Linked DNA regions of Homo sapiens: all the other regions are linked to region 2. The links come from fine-mapping of genetic effects on gene expression. A gene starts in region 2. Each other region holds a variant in brackets. All regions are shown on one strand. Distances are between the middles of the regions.

Region 1 (5,144 bases), 100 kb before region 2:
CCTCTCAGCCCCATGCAGATACTGCCCTTCTTAACCTGCCCGCTCCCTCCTTCCTGTCTAGGCCCCATTTTGGGCCTGGAGGCTTCTCCCTCTGAAGCTGTCCTGGCTCCTGCCACCTGGCCTGTCCCCTGCACCAGGAGCCACACCCCCCTGCTGCAGCCCTTCTCCCACTGCCTGAGGGTTACGTGTGGGGGCAAGGTGGGCATAAAAAGGCACCATGAGGGGACATCAGGACAGAGGATGAGGGGCCAGGTGAGGGGAAAGGTGGTCCCTGTGTGAGGGAGGCTGCGGGCACCAGGCTGGGAGGCCCTGTCCCCTTGGCTACCACCTCCTCATGTGCACCCTGCCAACACCAAGCCTCTGCAGCTGCTCTGCCCACTGCCAGGTGCACCTGCGACTCTGGGCTCCACAAGGCCCCTCCCATGCCATGCCTGGCACCTGCTGCTCCAGAAACAGCCCTGGGACCCTGCACCTCCGAGCACCATGCGGGCTCAGAGGAGGTACCGGGTGGACATTTACCCACTGCACCCATGAGGCCTTCCCCTCAGCCTTCCTCCCGGGCCTAGAGACAGCACCCCACGGAGGACAGGACAGCAGGGAGCGGCAGGGAGGAGTCACCAGGGTGGCCACACGGCTGCCTGAACTGAGCACAGCTCTGGGCTTGCCACGGCGTGGGCAGGGTGGCTGAGTAGGGGCAGGAAACCAGGGTCCTCCTGCTTCTGGGCACCGCTCAGCTGGGAGCAGGGCCAGTGCCCACGGAAGATACCACAGGGTCCCGAACGGCGGTGGGAAGGGAAGGGCCAGGCCGGCCCCACAGGAGCCCTGACCTCGGTCCCCACGCTCCGTCTGCCTCTCAAACTTGGCTCCCCGAGGACTTGGCCTCTGTGTTTCTCACGTCACTCCTTACTGTCAGCTAACTCCCAAGTGCCGCCCCAGCCCTGCTTCCAGAACATTCCCTGTGATGCCCCAGGAGACTCCTCCAGCCCAGCAGCCCCTCACCAGGCTCGTCATGGTCCCGATTCCCCCAGCCAACGTGCCCAATTCACCTGGCCCTGGCAGACAGTGCCATGATCTTCCTGATGCTGATACAGAAGCCAGAAACCCGGGGTGGCCCCGTTCCTCTCTCGGGCACCCTGGGTTCACCTCTCCTCTGCAGTTCCTGAGCCCCTCCAGAACCCACAACTCCCTTCCCTGTTCTCCTCTCCAACCCCACCACCTTTTCTCTAGCCTTTCTTAAAGCTCAAAGCTGATCCTGGGTCACCCCTCCCCACCCCATAGCTGGCTGTGGGATCACGTCCAAGCTCTCCAGCTTGGCTCTTGGGCCTTTCCAGATCTGGGTCTCCTCTCTCCTTCCTCCTTCCCTGCCTCCTGTAGGCCTCTGGGCCCCATATATGCTGTTTCTCCTCCACCCAAAGAGCCTTCCCTTCCCTACCCACCTCTTGCACCGGCAACTCGGACCTCACCCCTAATGTCCCACTGCAGAGCTCTCCTCCTCCAGGCAGCCCTCCCAGGAGACATGGCTGCCTTCATGGAGCACTACCTGTGCAAGCTACAGTCCTGAGGACTGTTCATGCATTGACAGAGTTAGCCCCCTTCATGGCACATCTTACAGATGGGGAAACTGAGGCAGGGGCCAATTATGGGCTTGCCCAGGGTCACATAGCTGGGAGGAGGAGAGTGTGACTTCTTTTTGTTGTTGTTGTTTTAAATAGAGACAGGATCTGACTACGTTGCTCTGCCTGGTCTTGAACTCCTGGGCTCAAGTGATCCTCCTGCCTTGGCCTCCCAAAGTGGTGGGATTACAGGCGTGAACCACTGTGCCCGGCCACAACTTAATATTTCAGAGGTGGCAATACTACCCAAAACAGTCTAGATTCAATGCAATCCCTACCAAAATACCATTTCCTGAAGAAATAGAAAAAAATCCACCCTAAAATCCATATGGGATCTCAAGGAATCTGAAATAGACAAGACAATCTTGAAAAATAACAAAATTGGAGGACTCACACTTTGTTATTTCAAAACTTAACTACAAAGCTACAGTAATCAAAACAGTGTGGTACTGACATAAAGACAAACATCAAGACCAATGGAATAGAATAAAAGCCCAGAAATAAACCCTCACATATATGGTCAAGTGATTTTCAACAAGGGTGCCAAACCATTCAACGGGGAAGGGACAGTCTTTTCAACAAAACGGCTCTGGAAAAACAAGATCTCCATATGCAAAAGAATGAAGCTGTGCCCTGATCTAACACCATATACAAAAATTAACTCAAGACGGATCAAAGATCTAAAGCTAAAACTATAAAAGTAAAAAACTAAAACTGTAACTCTATAACTAAAACCATAAAAGCTAAAACTATATATACTAAAACTATAAAACTCTTGGAAGAAAACAGAGGAAAAGCTTCATACACTGGAGTTGGCAATAATTTCTTGGATC[G/T]GACACCAAAAGCACAGGCAACAAAAGAAAAAATACATAAATTGGATGCTGCCAAAATTAAAAACACTTGTGCATCAAAAGACGTAATCAACAGAGTGAAAAGGCCCCATTCCCACGGAATGAGAGAAAATATTTGCGAATCATATAGATGATAAGGGATCAATATGTAGACTATATAAAGAACTCTTACAACCCACCAACAAAAAGAAAAACAACCCAATTTAAAAATAGTCAAAATGTGAATGTACTAAAAAGCGCTAAAAAACAAGGGCAAAGGACTTGAATAAACATTTCTCCAAAGACAAATGGCCAATAAGCACATGAAAAGATGCTCAACAGCACTAATCATTAGGGAAATGCAAACCAAAACCACAATCCCTATCAAAATATCCTTTTTCGCAGAAATAGAAAAAAATCCACCCTAAAATCCATACAGAATCTCAAAAAACCTCAAATAGCCAAGACAATATTGAAAAAGAATAACAAAATTGGAAGACTCACACTTCTTGATCTCAAAACTTAACTACAAAGCTACAGTAATCAAAAGAGTGTGATACTGGCATAAAGAGAAACATAAAGACCAATGGGGCCAGATGTGGTGGCTCACGCCTATAATCCCAACACTTCGGGAGGCCAAGGCGGGGGGGATCATCTGAGGTCAAGAGTTCAAGACTAGCCTGGCCAACATGGTGAAACCCCATCTCTACTAAAAATACAAAAATTAGCTGAGTGTGGTGATGGGCACCTGTAATCCCAGCTACTCAAGAGGCTAAGGCAGGAGAATCGCTTTGAACCCGGGAGGAGGAGGTTGCAGTGAGCCAAGATTGCACCACTGCACTCCAGCCTGAGAGACAGAGCAAGACTCTGTCTAAAAAAAAAAAAAAAAAAAAAAAAAAAAAAAAAAAAAAAAAGACCAATGGAATAGAATAGAAAGCCCAGAAATAAACTGTCACATATATGGTCAAGTGATTTTCAACAAGGGTGCCAAACTACTCAATGGGAAAAGGATGGTCTTTTCAACAAATAGCTCTGGGAAAACAGGATCTCCAAGTGCAAAAAGAAAAACAACCCAATTTAAAATAGATAAAGTATGAATATACTAAAAAGCATTAAAAAAAAAAAAAAAGAGAGAGAGAGAGGAAAAGGAAAAGGGCACAGGACTTGAATAAACATTTCTCCAAAGACAGACAAATGGCCAAGAAGCACATGAAAAGATGCTCAACATCACTAATCATTAGGGAAATGCAAACCAAAACCACAATCCCTATCAAAATATCATTTTTTGCAAAAAAAAAATATTAGGATTAGTAAATATTAGTAGACATTAGGATGGCTATTATCAAAAAATCAGAAAATAACAAGTGTTATTGAGGATATGGAGAAACTGAAATCCTTATACACTGTTGGTAGGAACATAAAATGGTATAGCCACTACAGAGAACAGTGTGGCAGTTCCTCAAAAAATTAAACATGCTGGCTGGGCGTGGTGGTTCACGCCTGTAATCCCAGCACTTTGGGAGGCCAAGGCAGGTGGATCATCTGAGGTCAGGAGTTCGAGACCAGCCTGGCGAACATGGTGAAACCCCCATCTCCATTAAAAACACAAAGATTAGCCAGGTGTGGTGGCATGCGCCTGTAATTCCAGCTACTCGGGAGGCTGAGGCAGAACCGCTTGAACCCAGGAGGCAGAGGATGTGGTGAGCCGAGATCACGCCACTGCACTCCAGCATGGGTGGTAGAGCAAAACTCTGTCTCAAAAAAAATTAAACATACAATTACACATGATCCAGCAATCCCATGTCTGGGAATATACCCAAAAAAATTATGAGTAGGGACTCAAAGAGATGTACACCAATGTTCACAGCAGCACTACGCACAATAGCCAAATGGTGAAACCAGCCAAATGTCCATCAACAGATGAACGGATAAACAAAATGTGTCCCATCCATACAGTGGAATAACAGCCTTAGAGGGGAAGGACGTTCTGACACGTTACAACGTGGACGAACCTTGAGGACATTATGCTCAGTGAAATAAGCCAGACACAAAATGATAAATCCTGGATGATTCTCCTTACATGAGGTCCCTGGAGTCGTCAAACTCATAGAGGTGGAAAATAGGATGGTGGTTGCCAGGGGCTGGGAGGGAATGGAGGGTAGTAGGAGGGTGGGGGTTGGGGATTGGGGGGTAGGGGGTGGGTGGGTGAGTGTTTAATGGGGACAGAGTTTCTGTGCGGGAAGATGCAAAAGCTCTGAACACAGATGGTGGTGATGATTGCAAAACAATGTGAGGATACTTACTAAATGCCACTGAACTGCACACTTAAGGTTAAGACAGTAACTTACACGTTATGTGTATTTGTTTTGTTTTTGGTTTGTTTTTGAGACAGGGTCTTGTTCTGTTGCCCAGGCTGCAGTGCAGTGGTGCGATCATGGCTCACTGCAACCTCTGCCTCCAGGGTTCAAGCGATTCTCCTGCCTCAGCATCCCGAGTAGCTGGGATTACAGGCGCCTGCCACCACACCCAGCTAATTTTTGTATTTTTAATAGAGACGGGGTTTCAACATGTTGACTAGACTGGTCTCGAACTCCTCACCTCAGGTGATCCACCTGCTTCAGTCTCCCAAAGTGCTGGGCTTACAGACAAGAGCTACCGCATCTGGCCACATGTTATGTGTATTTTACTAACTTTAAAAAAA
Region 2 (5,132 bases):
ATTTGCTGATGAATTGGACATGAGGGATGAGCAAAGGAGAGAGTTGTCACGTGCGCTTCCAGGTCTCTGGCCTGAGCACCTGGATGGATGGGAGAGCCCTTTCCCAAAACCAAAATGACTGGAAGAGAAGCAGAAATGGAGGGAGGAAAAAATCAAGGTTTTGCTCCAGAAGCCTGAAGTCCTCCCAGGAGGGAGTGAGGCGTCTCTATCCACACAGAGAGCATCTGCAGACAGGAGCCATGGGGGAGTAGTGGTGAGTATCCTAAAAACTCAATTCCAGCCAAGGACTGCCACCTCCACTTAACCCTCTGGGTCCCCTGGCAGGTGGGACTATGGCTCCATGTTTCAGAGGGGACAAGCAGGGCTGGGGGTCACCTCTGCTCCAGGATATCCTCCAGTGCTGTGCTAAGGGCTTGGATTGTAGAGACTTCTGCTGCCCTGCGTCTTCCCACAGAAGCTCCTAGACTGGGTGGTGCCCACTGTGCAGAGGAAGAAACTGAGGCACAAAAGGCCTGGTTTCCCGAAGTAAATGGCAGCGTCTCTCCTTGTCTGTCTTCTCCATCCAGAATTCAGATGGAGCAGGGGCGCCCTGGGCCCCTATAGGCTCCCATCCCCCAATCTTGTTTTTTGACAGTCTGGAGTCTGAACTGGAGATTTAAGTAGGAGAGGGTGGGGCTTCAGTCTTGGGCAGACAAATGGGGGCTCCTGAGCCCCCCTCAGACACTTTTACCCCCTTGGCTGGTTGGGGACCAGGAGAGAGAATCCAGGCCTCTAAGGGACTCCTGGAAAAGGGGACTTGGAGCCGTTCCCTTCCCTGGGCGCTGCAGCTGGGGGCGGGGCTGCGACCAAAAGTGGGTAATTGCACCCCCCAACTCTCATTTCAGGCACCCCCATCCGCAGCAGCCTTGGAGGCCAGGAACCCTTTATTCCTGGGCGCCCGCATCGGGTGGGGACCGGGAGGAGGGAGATGAGACGCCCGGACCGGGAGGGGTCCCGAAACTCGAGCAATGGCCAAAAATAATAACACGGAGAAGGCTCTTTGCGCAAAAGAAGGAAGACAAACTATGCGTCGCTCCGGGCAGCCGGCGTTACCTGGAGTCGGCGGGCGGTGGCCGCCGAAGCGATTACTCACCGCGTGGCGCACCCCACCCGCGGGCCGCTGAGTGGATTTTTCCGTGGCGGGGTGTGAATAGGTCCCGGGGAAAGAGCTTCTTACCGCTCTCCTCCTGGGAATCCCTCTTACTGCGGTGCGGGACCCAGTTCCCGCGCAGGCCTGGGTCCCGGCTCCCACAGGGGACTACATCTCCCCGTCTGCCCACGCAGGAGCTCCCTCCCGAGGCCCCCGGGGCGCCCAGAGCAACCTCAAACCCATCCCGCGCGCGAAGGGGACAGCGCAGCCAGGGCGAAGGCGAGGGACTCCGTGCCTTCCTGCTTTTTCTCCTTTCTTCCAGCAAAGCCTGGGGCCGAGGCTACTCGCGGAGAATCGAAAAGAGGCAGGATGAGGTGGGAGGGCTGGAACCCGCGCGCCGAGGGCGTGGGGCTGGGGGTGACTTTTAGGCCCCTGGGAAGGCTGAGGGGCTGGAGATGGGGGTAGGCGGGACTCAAGGACCGCTCGGTGGGGGGGGCGGGGCCAGAGCTGGGGTGGGGGCCGAGACAGAAGATTGGGCCGTGGAAGGGGGAATGGAGGAGTGGGGCAGGGTTGGGGACCAAAGGGGCCACTGAAGAGGCACTGGGCTGAGAGGAGGGTGCAGGGAAGTGGGCAGGGTTATGGAAACGGGATTGGGGGTGCCGGGTCCCAGACTGGGGGTGGGAAGCCTGGAGCTGGCAGGGTTGGAGAGGGAGGTCCTGGGCCGGTAGGGGTTGAGTTAGGGGGCTTTGGGCCGCGGGATAGGGCGCGCGCGGTTCTCGGTGGGGCGGAGGCGGGACGGGCGGGGCGCGCGGTGCCCGCGGGCGGGCGGGCGGCGGGGAGGCCGGTGCGGGGCCCGCCGCCCCCCCGGGGCCGGGCCGGGCCGGGGGCGGGGCCGGGCGGGGCCAGCGGCGCATTAGCGCCTTGTCAATTCGGCTGCTCAGACTTGCTCCGGCCTCCGCGTCCGCGCCCAGCGACGTGCGGGCGGCCTGGCCCGCGCCCTCCCGCGCCCGGCCTGCGTCCCGCGCCCTGCGCCACCGCCGCCGAGCCGCAGCCCGCCGCGCGCCCCCGGCAGCGCCGGCCCCATGCCCGCCGGCCGCCGGGGCCCCGCCGCCCAATCCGCGCGGCGGCCGCCGCCGTTGCTGCCCCTGCTGCTGCTGCTCTGCGTCCTCGGGGCGCCGCGAGCCGGATCAGGAGCCCGTGAGTACCCGGCGCCCCACTCCTTCCCCCCTGCCAGAGCAGAGGGCGGGCGCCCCGGGGGCAGCCGCGGGGGGAGGGGGCGCGGGCGCCACCTGGACGGCCGGGGAACAAAGGAAGGCGCCCCCGGCGCAGCCCTCGGGGCGCCCTCACCTGCGGGGCACACGGCGCCGCAGTCCACTGTCCAGAGAGTCCTGCTTCCGCGCCCGAGGCCCTGTTACCTGGGCAGCTGGGCCGAGGGCGCCAGGCCAGGCCCCCGGGGGCTGGGGGGATCGCGGCCTGAGACCCTCTGCATGCCAGGACGTGGCGGGCGCACGCGTCTGCTTCGGTGGACTCTGGGCCCCTGGGACTGCAGGGCACCGCTCCCAGGCGGGGGCGCACGCGGTTGGCGCGCTGGGTGCGGGCCCCCAGCGGGCCCCCCCAGGCGGAGGGATGAGCCCCACGGGGAGGGCGGGGCTGCAGGGGGGCCGCTCTGGCCGCCTGGCGCGCAGCCCGGGGTCCCGGGGGACTTGTGTCTCCACGGGCCGGCGCCACCGCCCTCCCCCTGCGGGACCCGGCGCACGGGGGTCCGCGGAGTCCCCGCCACCGGCGGCGCTTAGAACCGTTTTCAGCCAGGCTGCGTCGGGCGGAGAGCCTCCAGCGAGAGGAATCTTTGTGAGCGAGTGGGTGAGAGGGAGAGGGAGCGGGAGCCAGTGAGTCCGGGCACCAGCGGGCCCAAACTTTGAGGGGGCCCACTGGGAACCCGCTGCCCTACGGGCCAAGACCCCTGCCCTGGAGGGACTTCTGGCCTCAGGCACTCTGGGGCCCCCCATCCAAGGAACACCCCCGCAAGGATACGTCTCCGTATGCAGACCCGCTCTGGGACACACCCAGAGACACACAAAGAATCACACTGGCTTGTGGCCCGTCACCCTCGCCCTCAAACTCGCGCACACTGCATCCCAGGTGCACATTCGCGCACCATCGCGGACGCACACACATTCCATCCCCGACACACACATTCACGGTCACACACATCCCACAGGGGAGGCGACCCAGGGGCACAGAGGCAGGCACCACTCGCCCCAGATGTTCAGTCACTCCACGCACCCCATCCAGGCGCACGGGCCACCCCGGGGGTCGCCGGGCACACACTGCTCCCAGGCTCATCCACCCTGTGCTGGGCTGTTTGCGGGCTGCCTGTAGGGCTCCTCCGGGAAGGGGCAGGGTCCGGGCATCTTCTAGGGGCACTTGCTGAAAGCCTGGCTCTCCCCTGGCTTTCAGGTGAGGGGCTACCTCGGGCCCTCCCAGGGCCCCTGACGGCTCTGCCAGGCGGTGGGCAGCGCCTGTGAGTGCCACTGTGAGCGCCAAGCTTTGTTTTCAGCCAGTAGAGCAGCAGGCGAAGGTGTAGGGGGTGGGGGGGCACTGTAAGTGTGTTTTTTCCTTTAAGGGGGGAAGAAATTAAATAAAAGATTCTCACACCTCGGCAATATGTTTCTACTTACGGTGTGTCTTAGCACCTGACCAGCAGGCGGGTGGGTCGTAAAGTGTCTGCAGGTACCAGCGGGACGGGAGATGGGGACCCCCGTGGGGACCCTGGGATGGAGGCCACCCTTCCGCCCTGCTTGCAGAGAATCTCACACTTTTCCCTTTTAAAACACATGGTGTTCCTTTTTAATAACGGCAGTGGCTCCAGATTGGGAAAAGAGGAGAGAAAAAACTTTTAAAGGCCCCAGCTCTGCGGGAAAGGAGGGGAGGCAGGGAGTGAAAAGGGAGCTGTTCAAAAGCCCAACCTAGGGATCTGCTTTGGGGAGCCCTAGGAGGCCCTCCAAACCAAGCCAAGCCCCCACCAACTCCGGCTCAGTGGGCTGTTCCCAGCTGCTCCCCTGCCTGGCCTGGAGTGCGTGCATCTCTGTCCCCAGCGCCTTAGCCCATTGTTTGTGGAGGCCTGGAGGGAGTGCCTAGTCAGCCGGGACCCCAGAGCTGGGAGGGGCTGTCATCTTTGCAGCTCCTGGGGGCTTCAGGCTTCTGAGCCCTCTGGACATTGGATTGCAATCACATCTCATTGATCTCCCCAGCAAGTAGAACGTATTTCTCCTCCCATTTTATGGAGGAGAAAATTGAGAACTGGAGAGGGGAAGTCAATTGGCCAGGTTCTCCCACTGGTGTTGCGCCCATATCCCGGGAGGAGAAAGTGTCCTTCTGACCTTACCGGCTGGGGCTAAGGGGGTGGGAGATTGGTCTGTCCAGGCCCGCCTGGCCTTGCCTTCCCCCTACAACCCGTCGCCGCCCGGTGTCCCCCGCCCAGCCCCGGGAGGGCAGCTGCAGCTGCTGGCAAGTGAGCCACGCCGGCCCAGGCCAGGCGGGTGTGGCAGAGGGGCAGCGCCCCCCAGCCAGGACCCCCCAGAGAGCCCCTTCCTGCCCAGGCCAAGCTGGCGGGTGGTGGGGGCAGGAGGAGTGAGACCCACTCTAGAAGGGCTGAGAGGGGCCTGGGGTCTGGGCAGGCCTGGCCGTGCCTCCCACTCTGTTGGGGGGGCCCAGGCAGGAAGCGGTGGGTGGGCCGGGGCAGAGACGCTGGCACACCCGAGTTCATGCAAAAGGAATTCCGAATTAGCGGGCGGCTGGCTGCCTGGGACCTCCAGGGCGGTCCCCTGGCCCCCAGCCCCCCGCCCCCCTCGGCCGCCCCCGCCTCCTCGGCTCTGGCCCGCTCAGCCGGCTCCTTCGCACGGACGCGGAGACCTCCGGCGAGCCCTGGGCCAAGCCCCAAGCGCAACTGCGATTCCAGGCTCCAGCGAGACAGAGCCCTCGAGCCAAGTTTGCCCCGGAAAAT
Region 3 (5,144 bases), 26 kb before region 2:
ATTCTCCTGCCTCAGCCTCCTGAGTAGCTGGGACTACAGGCATGTACCACATGCCTGGCTAATTTTTTTTTTTTTTTTGAGATGGAGTCTCACTCTGTCACCCAGGCTGGAGTGCCGTGGCACAATCTCAGCTCACTGCAATCTTCGCCTCCCAGGTTCAAGTGATTCTCCTGCCTCAGCCTCCCGAGTAGCTGGGACTACAGGCATGTGCCACCACGCCCAGCCAATTTTTGTATTTTTAGTTGAGATGGTTTCACCATGTTGGACAGGCTGGTCTCAAACTCCTGACCTCAAGTGATCCACCTGCCTTGGCCTCCCAAAGTGCTGGGATTACAGGAGTGAACCACTGTGCCCAGCATAATTTTTGTATTTTTATTAGAGACGGGGTTTCACCATGTTGGCCAGGCTGGTCTCGAACTCCTGACCTCAAGTGATCTGCCCGCCTCAGCCTCCCAAAGTGCCAGGATTATAGCGTGAACCACTGCACCCAGCTGACATTGGTTTTAACAGTGTCAATTTAACAGTGTTACAGTGTCTGACTGTTCAACAGTGTCTGACAACTGGGGGACAATATCTTGAATTTGGGACATGAGTCAGGAGGCATATAATCCAGGGAAAAATGGGTAGGGCTCATCCCAGGGTGACAGACATGGAGGGGTGGGAGGTAGTCCTAGTTGAGATGCACTTTGCAGGTGGGACCAAAAAGAGATGGAACAGATGGGATGTCGAGTGAGGCAGAGTGAGGCCAGTGACCTCTGCCAGAGCTGTTGGCCTGAGCTCTAGAGGCCACTATCACTGGCATGGAGCAGAGACAAGTGGAGGACCTGGAGGGCCCACGCCGGTGACTGCACACGCCTCATCCAGTAATGATGACCTGTGGTCTAGCAGAGCCGGCAGGCAGGGACATAGCAGGCAGCATCCACGGGCCTGGCCACCATCTGGCCCACAGCTGGCACGGCTCTCCTAGAGGCAGGGCCCGCGCCACCTGCTCTCCCACTTCAGACCAGCTGCAGGGCTCACACCCTCAGGTCAGAGCTTGGAGGCCTCCCTTACAATCCCCAGGTGTTATGGAGGAGGAAAGTGAAGCCTTGGGGGAGGGCTTCAAGTTCCTGTGGTTTTAGGCTGGGGACAGTGTCTGCCCCATCAGGCAGTCACCACGGAGTGGTCCTGGGGCAAGCCCAAGGTCCCCCGACATCAACTCCCTGTCCTCAGTCCTGTTTGATTTTTCTCCTATCTAACAAACTCTGTGTTTTACCTTTTTTTTTTTTTTTTGAGACAGAGTCTCGCTCTGTCACCAGGCTGGAGTGTAATGGCACAATCTTGGCTCACCGCAACCTCCGCCTCCGAGGTTCAAGCAATTCTCCTGCCTCAGCCTCCCAAGTAGCCGGGATTACAGGCATGCACTACCACGCCTGGCTAATTTTTGTATTTTTAGTAGAGACAGGGTTTCACCATGTTGGCCAGGCTGGTCTTGGATTCCTGACTCAGACGATTCACCCACCTCAGCCTCCCAAAGTGTTGGGATTACAGGCGTGAGCCACTGCGCCTGGCCCTAAATTTTTTTTTAATGGAGGCGGCACATCCTTTCAGGATCATGAGTGAGGCTTGCTGACAAACACCATGATCTCTCTCTGTTACCCCAGCCAGCAGCCTCCCGCACCTCCTTGAAGTCATGTCTGCACTGGCCCCACCTTCTTTTTTTATGTTTTATTTATTTATTTAAATTTTTGTTGTTGTTTTTGTTTTGTTTTGTTTTTTTGAGACAGAGTCTCACTCTGTCGCCCAGGCTGGAGTGCAGTGGCGCGATCTCATATCACTGCAACCTCCACCTCCCGGGTTCAAGCGATTCTCCTGCCTCACCCTCCCAAGTCTCTGGAATTACAGTTGCCCACCACCAGGCCTGGCTGATTTTTGTATTTTTAGCAGAGACAGCATTTCATCATGTTGGCCAGGCTGGTCTCAAACTCCCAACCTCAGGTGATCCGCCCACTTCGGCCTCCCAAAGTACTGGGATTACAGGCACGAGCCACCTCGACTGGCTACCTTCTTTTTTTATGTTTTATTTATCCATTTTCTTAAAAGACAGGGTCTTGGCCAGGTGCGGTGGCTTACGCCTGTAATCCCAGCACTTTGGGAGGCCAAGGCGGGCGGATCACCTGAGGTCGGGAGTTTGAGACCAGCCTGACCAACATGGAGAAACCTCATCTCTAATAAAAATACAAAATTGGCCGGGCGTGGTGGCTCACGCCTGTAATCCCAGCACTTTGAGAGGCCGAGGCGGGCAGATCACGAGGTCAGGAGATCGAGACCATCGTGGCTAACATGGTGAAACCCCGTCTCTACTAAAAAATACAAAAAAAATTAGCCAGGCGTGGTGGTGGGAGCCCATAGTCCCAGCTACTTGGGAGGCTGAGGCAGAAGAATGGCGTGAACCCGGGAGGCGGAGCTTGCAG[C/T]GAGCCCAGATCGCACCACTGCACTCCAGCCTGGGTGACAGAGCGAGACTCTGTCTCAAAAAAAATAAAAATAAAAATAAAAATAAAATAAATAAATAAATATACAAAATTAGCCGGGCGTGGTGGCACATGCCTGTAATCCCAGCTACTCGGGAGGCTGAGGCAGGAGAATGGCTTGAACCCAGGAGTCGGAGGTTTCAGTGAGCCGAGATCATGCCATTGCACTCCAGCTTGGGCAACAAGAGCAAAACTCTGGCTCAAAAAAAAGAAAGACAGGGTCTTCGTCTCGCTCTGTCACCTAGGCTGGAGTGCAGTGGCACGATCATAGCTGACTGTAACCTCCAATTCCTGGGCTCAAGCCATGCTCCCTCCTCAGCTTCCTGAGTAGCTAGAACTATAAGGCATATGCCACCATGCCTTTCTAATTTTATTATTTTATTTTTATTTATTTATTTTTTTGAGACAGGGTCTCACTCTGTCACCCAGAGTGCAGTGGTGCAACCTCAGTTCACTGCAGCCTTGACTTCCTGGGCTCAAGTGATCCTCCTACCTCAGTCTCCCGAGTAGCTGAGACCACAGGTGTGCGCCACCACGCCCAGCTAATTTTTGCATTTTTTTTTTTTTGTAGAGTTGAGGTTTCACCATGTTGCCCAGGCTGGTCTTGAGCTTCTGAGCTCAAGCAATCTGTCCACCTCAGCCTCCTAAAGTGCTGGGATTACAAGCATGAGCCACCACGCCGGGCCCTTTTATTTATTTATTTATATTTTTAGAGATAAGGTCTCACTCTGTCGCCCAGGCTGAAATGCAGTGGCGCAATCATAGCTCACTGCAGCCTCAACCTCCTGGGTCAAATGAGCCTCGTACCTCAGCCTCCAGAGTAGCTGGGACCACAGGTGTATGCCAGTACACCTGGCTAATTTTGTAAAAAAAATTTGGTAGAGACAGAGTCTCACTATATTGTTCAGGCTGGTCTTGAACTCCAGGCCTCAAGTGATTCTCCCACTTCAGCCTCCCAAAGTGCTGGGATCACAGGTGTGAGCCACCATACCTAGTGTATATCTTGATTATAGGGGTATCTTAGGAGGATTACATTTGCCAAAACTCATTGAACTGGGCATTTAACATGGATGTGCCATTGGATGTAAATTATGTCTTATTAAAGCTGGTTTACTAAGGCTGGGCGCGGTGGCTCACGCCTGTAATCCCAGCACTTTGGGAGGCCAAGGTGTGTGGATCACAAGGTCAGGAGATCGAGACCATCCTGACTAACACGGTGAAACCCCGTCTCTACTAAAAATACAAAAAATTAGCCGGGTGTAGTGGCGGGCACCTGTAGTCCCAGCTACTTGGGAGGCTGAGGCAGGAGAATGGTGTGAACCCAGGAGGCGGAGCTTGCAGTGAGCCAAGCCATTGCACTCCAGCCTGGGTGACAGAGTGAGACTCTGCCTCAAAAAAAAAAAAAAAAAAAAAAAGCTGATTTACTAAAACAAAATCAGGCCAGTTGCGGTGGCTCAAGACTGTAATCCCAGCACTTTGGGAGGCCGAGGCAGGAGGATCACTTGAGTCCAGGAGTTTAAGACCAGCCGTGGCAACATAGAGGGATCCCATCCCAATAGAAAAAAAAAGAAAAGGTCAAATCCACCCAATGTGATAAGAACTAGGACTACCTCTGGGGGGCGACCAACTGGGACCCACCACTGTGGGGACTAGGGTGCTGAGAGGCTGCTGGGGATTCAACTGTCAGCCCATCCGACAAGATCCTTGACCTCATGTTCCAAGATATTCTGAAAGGTACATTCTGATGGGAAAGACAAATCTGAGATATATAATTGATCAATGACCAAGGCCATTTCAGATGGCAATAACTGCCTTGAAGGCAATGAGCTGAGAGCGATCAAGTGTGTGTTGGGTAGGGGAGCACTGCTTCAGCCAGAAGATCAGGGAGAGCCTCCCTGAAGAGGTGATGATGTCCCAGCTTCAGTAAAAGAAGGGGACAGAATGTTCTAGAATGTTCCAGGACATTCCAGAACATTGTGCAATGTTCCCGTATATTCTGAGAGGACATAATATGAAGGACCTAAGCCCAGTGCCAGAAAAAGCTCAAGGGATAGAGATGAGGCCGCACTGGCTTGGAAGAAGTGGGCAAGGCGGAGCAAGGATGGAGAGTGTCGACAAAGATGTATTGAGAGCAGCCTCCTTGGTGTGTGGGACACAGCTGTGACCGAGACGCCTAGCGCATAGCATCTGGCAGAGGGAACATTTATTAAACCAATCATCACACAAGCAAACAAGCCATCACTTAATTGTCACCATGATAAAAGCTGGGGCTGAGCCAGGAGGTCAGGCTGAAGAGCTGGCCAGACGGAGCGAAGAGGGAACAGCCTCCAGGCGGAGGGAACAGCCTGCATGGGGGCCCTGAGGAGGGAGAGTGTGCCAGGAGCTGCATGGAGCCCAACAGGGACCTGAAGTCTCCTCTTCGCACCCCAGGAAAAGACAGCCACCATGCATCCCCATCCTGCCCTCCAAGTGTTTACAGAATGTCCCCTGTGTGCCAGCTGGATGCTGGGGACACCCTCTCCCCATTTCTTCCTGGCGGATTGCCACCCCTGGGCTAAGAAACTCAGGCCTGTCACTAGGGAACCAAGTTGCTGTGGCAACCCTGTGCTACCGTTGCCATGACGCCAGCCACCC
Region 4 (5,144 bases), 110 kb before region 2:
GCCGAGATCGCGCCACTGCCCTCCAGCCTGGACGACAGAGCGAGACTCCGTCTCAAAAAAAAAAAAAAAACAGAGGTTGAACTGGAGTAGGGTATGCCTTAAATCCAATGACTAGCATCCTCAGAAGATGAGAAGAGACACAGTGAGAGGAGGTGTCCACATGACAATGAAGGCAGAGACTGGAGTGATGCAAAGAGCGCCTAGAGCCACTGAAGCTGGAGGAGGCAGGAAGGATCCTCCCCTAGAGCCTCCTGCAGGCACCAGCCCTGCCGACACCTGCACTGAATACATTTCTATTGTTTTAAGATACCCAGTTTGTGGTCATTTGTTACAGCCACCAACAGGAAAGGAAGGACTAAGGCCCCACGCATGTGTGCAGGCAGTGTACTCGGGCAGAGAGGGCCCCATGCATGCGTGCACATAGTGTACATGAGCAGAGAGAAAGAGAGGGAATTCCAAAACTCAGCCGGGTGCAGCAGCTCACACCTGCAATCCCAGTACTTTGGGAGGTCAAGGTGGGTGGATCTCTTGAGGTCAGGAGTTCGAGATCAGCCTGGCCAACATGATGAAACCCCGTCTCTACTGAAAGTACCAAAGTTAGGCCGGGCGTGGTGGCTCACGCCTGTTATCCCAGCACTCTGGGAGGCCGAGGCGGGCGGATCACAAGGTCAGGAGATCAAGACCATCCTGACTAACATGGTGAAACCCCATCTCTGCTAAAAAAAAAAAAAAAAAAAAAACACTAAAAATTAGCCGGGCGTGGTGGCAGGCGACTGTAGTCCCAGTTACTCGGGAGGCTGAGGCAGGAGAATGGCGTGAACCCGGAAGGCGGAGCTTGCAGTGAGCCGAGATCATGCCACTGCACTCCAGCCTGGGTGACAGAGCGAGACTGTCTCAAAAAAAAGAAAAAGAAAGAAAGAAAGAAAATACAAAAGTTAGTCAGGTGTGGTGGCTCACATCTGTAATCCCAGCTACTCGGGAGGCTGAGGCAGGAGAATTGCTTGAACCAGGGAAGCAGAGGTTGCAGTGACACGAGATCGCGTCACTACACTTCAGCCTGGGAGACAGTGAGACTCCATCTCAAAAACAAAACAAAACAAAACAAAAAAACTCACTTTTTCTCCACCTTGACTCAAAACACATCTCTTGGTGCACACTTGTGTTCTGGAATGTGCAAGCACACGTCTATTTGTAGCTGGGGGAACAGATCCTTTGCAGTTTAATTTTAAATCTTATCACCAATTGAATAATGCAAACCACTGGCGGGGATGCTGGCCACTTGAAACAGGGTCTCCCTCCCCAAGAGCGGCCCCTGGGTCCCAGGCAAGAAGCCCGACGCCGACGCTGCCCACATGGACGGGCCTGGGGCCTTCCCGGAGCGGGCCTGTGCCCATCTTGAAAATGTCAGGCCTGGTTTCTGACAGGTGCCGGACCTAACCTCAGGGAAGTCAGATCCCAGACACGGCAGAGGAGGCCCAGCCCTGCTCGCCCCGGGTCAGCCGCCCGCAGGCCTCTGGGATTCTGAGCACCGCGGGGCGATCTGCCAGGAGCCACCTCCGGTCGAGGCGGAACAAATGATTTTTGAAAACGGCATCTGCCTGCTGACACAGGGCTTGCTTGGGGTCTGGGCTGAACCCGCCTCTCTGAGCAGCTCTTTCGACGCTGCCTCCCCCCAGGACGGCTAAGACAAAGGCGAGATGCCCTCATTACCATGGGCCCAAAATAGCTTTTATGCTCCATTTTTTAGACATAGCTTGACTATGGAGTTACATAACACCAAAAGTCATTTTGTGATTTGGAAGGCCAGATCCTGGGCCTGCCGGGGCCCACCTGGTACCCCTTGAGTGCCCTCACAGCCCTGTCCCAAAGGCTTCACCCAGGCCCCTGAACTCCTAGCCAGGCCCCAGGTGGCACCTGCTGCAGGCCCTGGGGACCCGGTGGGGTTAGCCCTTGCCTGTCTCACCATCTTCAGGCCGCATTCTGGGCTAGCGGGGCCAGGCACCACATTTGGAGTGCCCAGCAGACACACACGATGCAGGGAAGGACCAAGCCCAGAGGAGGGGTCACTAGTTGGAGGCTGCGCCCGCCAGGGTAGAAGAAGCAGGGACAGAGGCTGGAGGTGTCCCTTTCCTCTGCCTGCCTCATCACTCCCATGATCACTTCCCAGCAGCTCGACTTCCAGGGCCCATCGTCAGCCCCCTCCCTGGTACTAGCCCGTGTCATCTCGCACCCAGACACCCACGTGACCTCCTCCCAGGCCTCCCTGCTCCCTCTGCAAGTGGCTGCCGAGACTCCTTCATTTTCT[T/C]CTCTTTATTCATTCAGTTCAAATCGTGTTATGCTCCCGTTTTAAACACACCAGTAGGCTTCCATCCTATTTAAAATAAACCCCCAATCTGTATGGCGGTTCCTCAACAAGTGACATGCTGAGCTGCTGTTATGACCAAGCAATCCCACTCCTGGACGGATGCCCCCACGAAATGAAGACAATCATACATGAGTGTGTGTACCAGCACAATGGACAACAGCCAAAAGGTGGGAAAACCCACGTGTGTGCCAAGGGATGAATGAATAAGACTGGTCTGTCCATACAGTGGAATAAGATTCAGCCATGAAAAGGAATGAAGGCTGGGCACGGTGGCTCACACTTGTAATCCCAGCACTTTGGGAGGCGGAGGAGGGAAGATCCCTTGAGGCCAGGAGTTTGAGAGCAGCCTGGCCAATATGGTGAAACCCTGTTTCTAAAAAAAAAAAAAAAAAATTAGCCAGGCATGCATGGTGGTGCACACCAATAATTTCAGCTATTCGAGAGGCAGAGGTGGGAGGTTGGACAGAGCCCAAGAGGTGGAGGCTGCAGTGAGCTGTGATCGTACCACTGCACTCCAGCCTGGGTGACAGAGTGAGACCCTGTCTCAAGAGGAACAACAAAAAAGGAAGGAAGCACTGACCCATGCTACAATGTGGATGAAACTGAACATGTGATGCTGAGTGAGAGAAGCCAGGTACAGAAGGCCACAGGGTGTGAGATTCCATCGATCTGAAATGCTCAGAACAGGCAAATCCACAGAGACAGGAAGCAGATTAGTAACTGCCAGGGGCTGGGGAGGAGAGGAGGGGAGGGACTGCTAATGGGGACAAGGTCTCCTTTGGATGATGAGAATGTTCTGGAACTAGATAGCTGTGATGCCTGCACAATACTGTGAATGCGCCAAACGCCATGGAACTGTTCACTTTCAGATGGTGAATCTTATGTTATGTGGTGTTCACCTCAACAATAGATAAGTAAGATTCAAAGCCAGCCCCGTGACGGGGCTGCCCAGGCCCTGCTGTCTTTTTCTTCTCCCTCACTCCTGTCCCTACTGCCAGGTCCTCTTCCTGCTGTCAAAGGCCTTCTCCCCAGGGGCCCTCTGCTTGTACTGTTCCTGCCTCACACACGCACCCCCGTGTCTGGAAACCACTGCTGCCTTGACCAGGGCTGGCATGAGAAACCGTCCTGCGAGAGGCCCTCCCATGTCCCTGCGGCCCTGCTCTGCTCCCACCCGGCATTTGGCCCACCCCGGAACCCTGCACCCTCCTCTCTGAGCTGCATCCTCCAGCCCCGCCCATACTCACTGTAGGCTGAGACTGGAAGGCAGTGTTTGAGCCCAGGGGTCCTGCATCCAAGCTGGTGGCTGCACGCATCTGTGTCTGCCTCTCTGGGCCCCAGTGCCCCACACACAGGCAGAAACACAGGCTCCTGTGAGTGAGCACTACGACCCTTCTGAGGGGACAGTGTTTGGGGTGATCAGCTCCAGAGGGGAGGGACTGGCCCCTGAACAGTATGGGGTGGCAGCCCTGCTCCAGCTCAGCATCTATGGCAAGGGCTCCAGGGATGCCCTTGACCCCAAGGGCCACTACCCAGTGGTCATTACTGCACCAAGGACAGAGGCCACAAGGAGACAGACCCAGTCCTGGCTCCCACACAGCCTGAAGACCCTGGGAGAGGGTGCTAGGGGAAAGACTTCCCCTGGGCCCTCCACTCCCAAGCCCAGCAGCCCCCTCTCAGCCCCACCCTGGGAGTGCCACCATCACCCCTCACTCAAAGCTCCCCAAACTCATGTCTCCAGCCCAGCGCCAGTCACCCACCAGGGAGGCTGTACAGACATCACACGTGTTCACACACATGCACCCAGCCACATGTGTGCACACTCACAGCAATGCACATAGTCACATAAACACATTCATGCACGTGCATGCACATATGCTCACACGCACACACACATGCTCACACTCCTGTCCTGCCTGCACTCCTGTCCTGCCTGCACGCCAGCTCCCACTCACTTGCACACACACGAGCACATTCACAACTGCCCAAACCTGTCCCTTCCTTAGGAACCCCCCATGCCCCACCTGGCTCCCCCATGTCCCAGCACCTCTTCTGCCCTCTCGCCTCTTCTGTCCTCATTCTGGCCCAAGCCACATCTTCTCTTGCCTGGACAAATACAGAAGCCTCCTACTGGGGTCTCAAGTTAACCCTGCAGCGCCCAAACCACTCAGCTGGAGTCTCTCCAAACTTCCCACCTGAGCAGGTCACTCCAGCTCTACAGGAAAGACGACACAGCATGCTCTACTCGCTAGCCCCTATACTAGCCATGCCCTCTCCACACACTAATGCCCGCTGGGCTCTCCACACGCTAATGCTTGCTGGGCTGCACCTGGGCTAAGAGTCATGCAGGAGCCGGCCAGGCACAGTTGCTCACACCTGTAATCCCAGCACTTTGGGAGGCCAAGGTGGGTGGATCATGAGGTCAGGAGTTTGAGACCAGCCTGGCCAACATGGTGAAACCCCATCTCTACTAAAAATACAAAAATTAGCTGGGTGTGGTGGCAGACGCCTGTAATCCCAGCTACTTGGGAGGCTGAGGCAGAGAACTGCTTGAACCTGGGAGGTGGAGACTGCAGTGAGCTGAGATCGTGCCACTGCACTCCAGCCTGGGTGACAGAGCAAGATTGCGTCTCAAAAAAAAAAAAAGAGTCATTCGGGAGCCACATTCTGGCCCCACCTCCAATAATGACCCTCAGGCTGATGTCCCCACCCTAAGACCACAGCCCCCAACAAGGGTGGGCTGTGGCTGCTGCACTCACTACAGGGTCCCCAGGGCGGGGCA

The links. PIP is the estimated chance that this variant, and not a neighbour inherited with it, causes the effect.
Region 1: its variant is the best candidate, but not a certain one, in a credible set for the expression of CRLF1 in cerebellum (GTEx, PIP 0.68).
Region 3: its variant is the best candidate, but not a certain one, in a credible set for the expression of CRLF1 in aorta (GTEx, PIP 0.82).
Region 4: its variant is the best candidate, but not a certain one, in a credible set for the expression of CRLF1 in cerebellar hemisphere (GTEx, PIP 0.58).

Annotation. Positions count from the first base shown.
Region 1 is chr19:18,704,396-18,709,539 of GRCh38, reverse strand. The region is part of intron 1 of CRTC1 (CREB regulated transcription coactivator 1); the gene reads right to left. Among named protein-coding and RNA genes, the nearest start is that of CRTC1, 23 kb to the right of the region's middle. The variant G/T (reference allele first, on the strand shown) is at 2,447.
Region 2 is chr19:18,603,736-18,608,867 of GRCh38, reverse strand. It overlaps CRLF1 (cytokine receptor like factor 1), which reads left to right and starts at 2,069. Exons shown (of 9, transcript NM_004750.5): 1 at 2,069-2,326. The coding sequence starts at 2,212. RefSeq lists an enhancer at 2,029-2,947.
Region 3 is chr19:18,629,330-18,634,473 of GRCh38, reverse strand. It overlaps the pseudogene RN7SL155P. Among named protein-coding and RNA genes, the nearest start is that of KLHL26, 5.1 kb to the left of the region's middle. The variant C/T (reference allele first, on the strand shown) is at 2,454.
Region 4 is chr19:18,716,122-18,721,265 of GRCh38, reverse strand. The region is part of intron 1 of CRTC1 (CREB regulated transcription coactivator 1); the gene reads right to left. Among named protein-coding and RNA genes, the nearest start is that of CRTC1, 35 kb to the right of the region's middle. The variant T/C (reference allele first, on the strand shown) is at 2,306.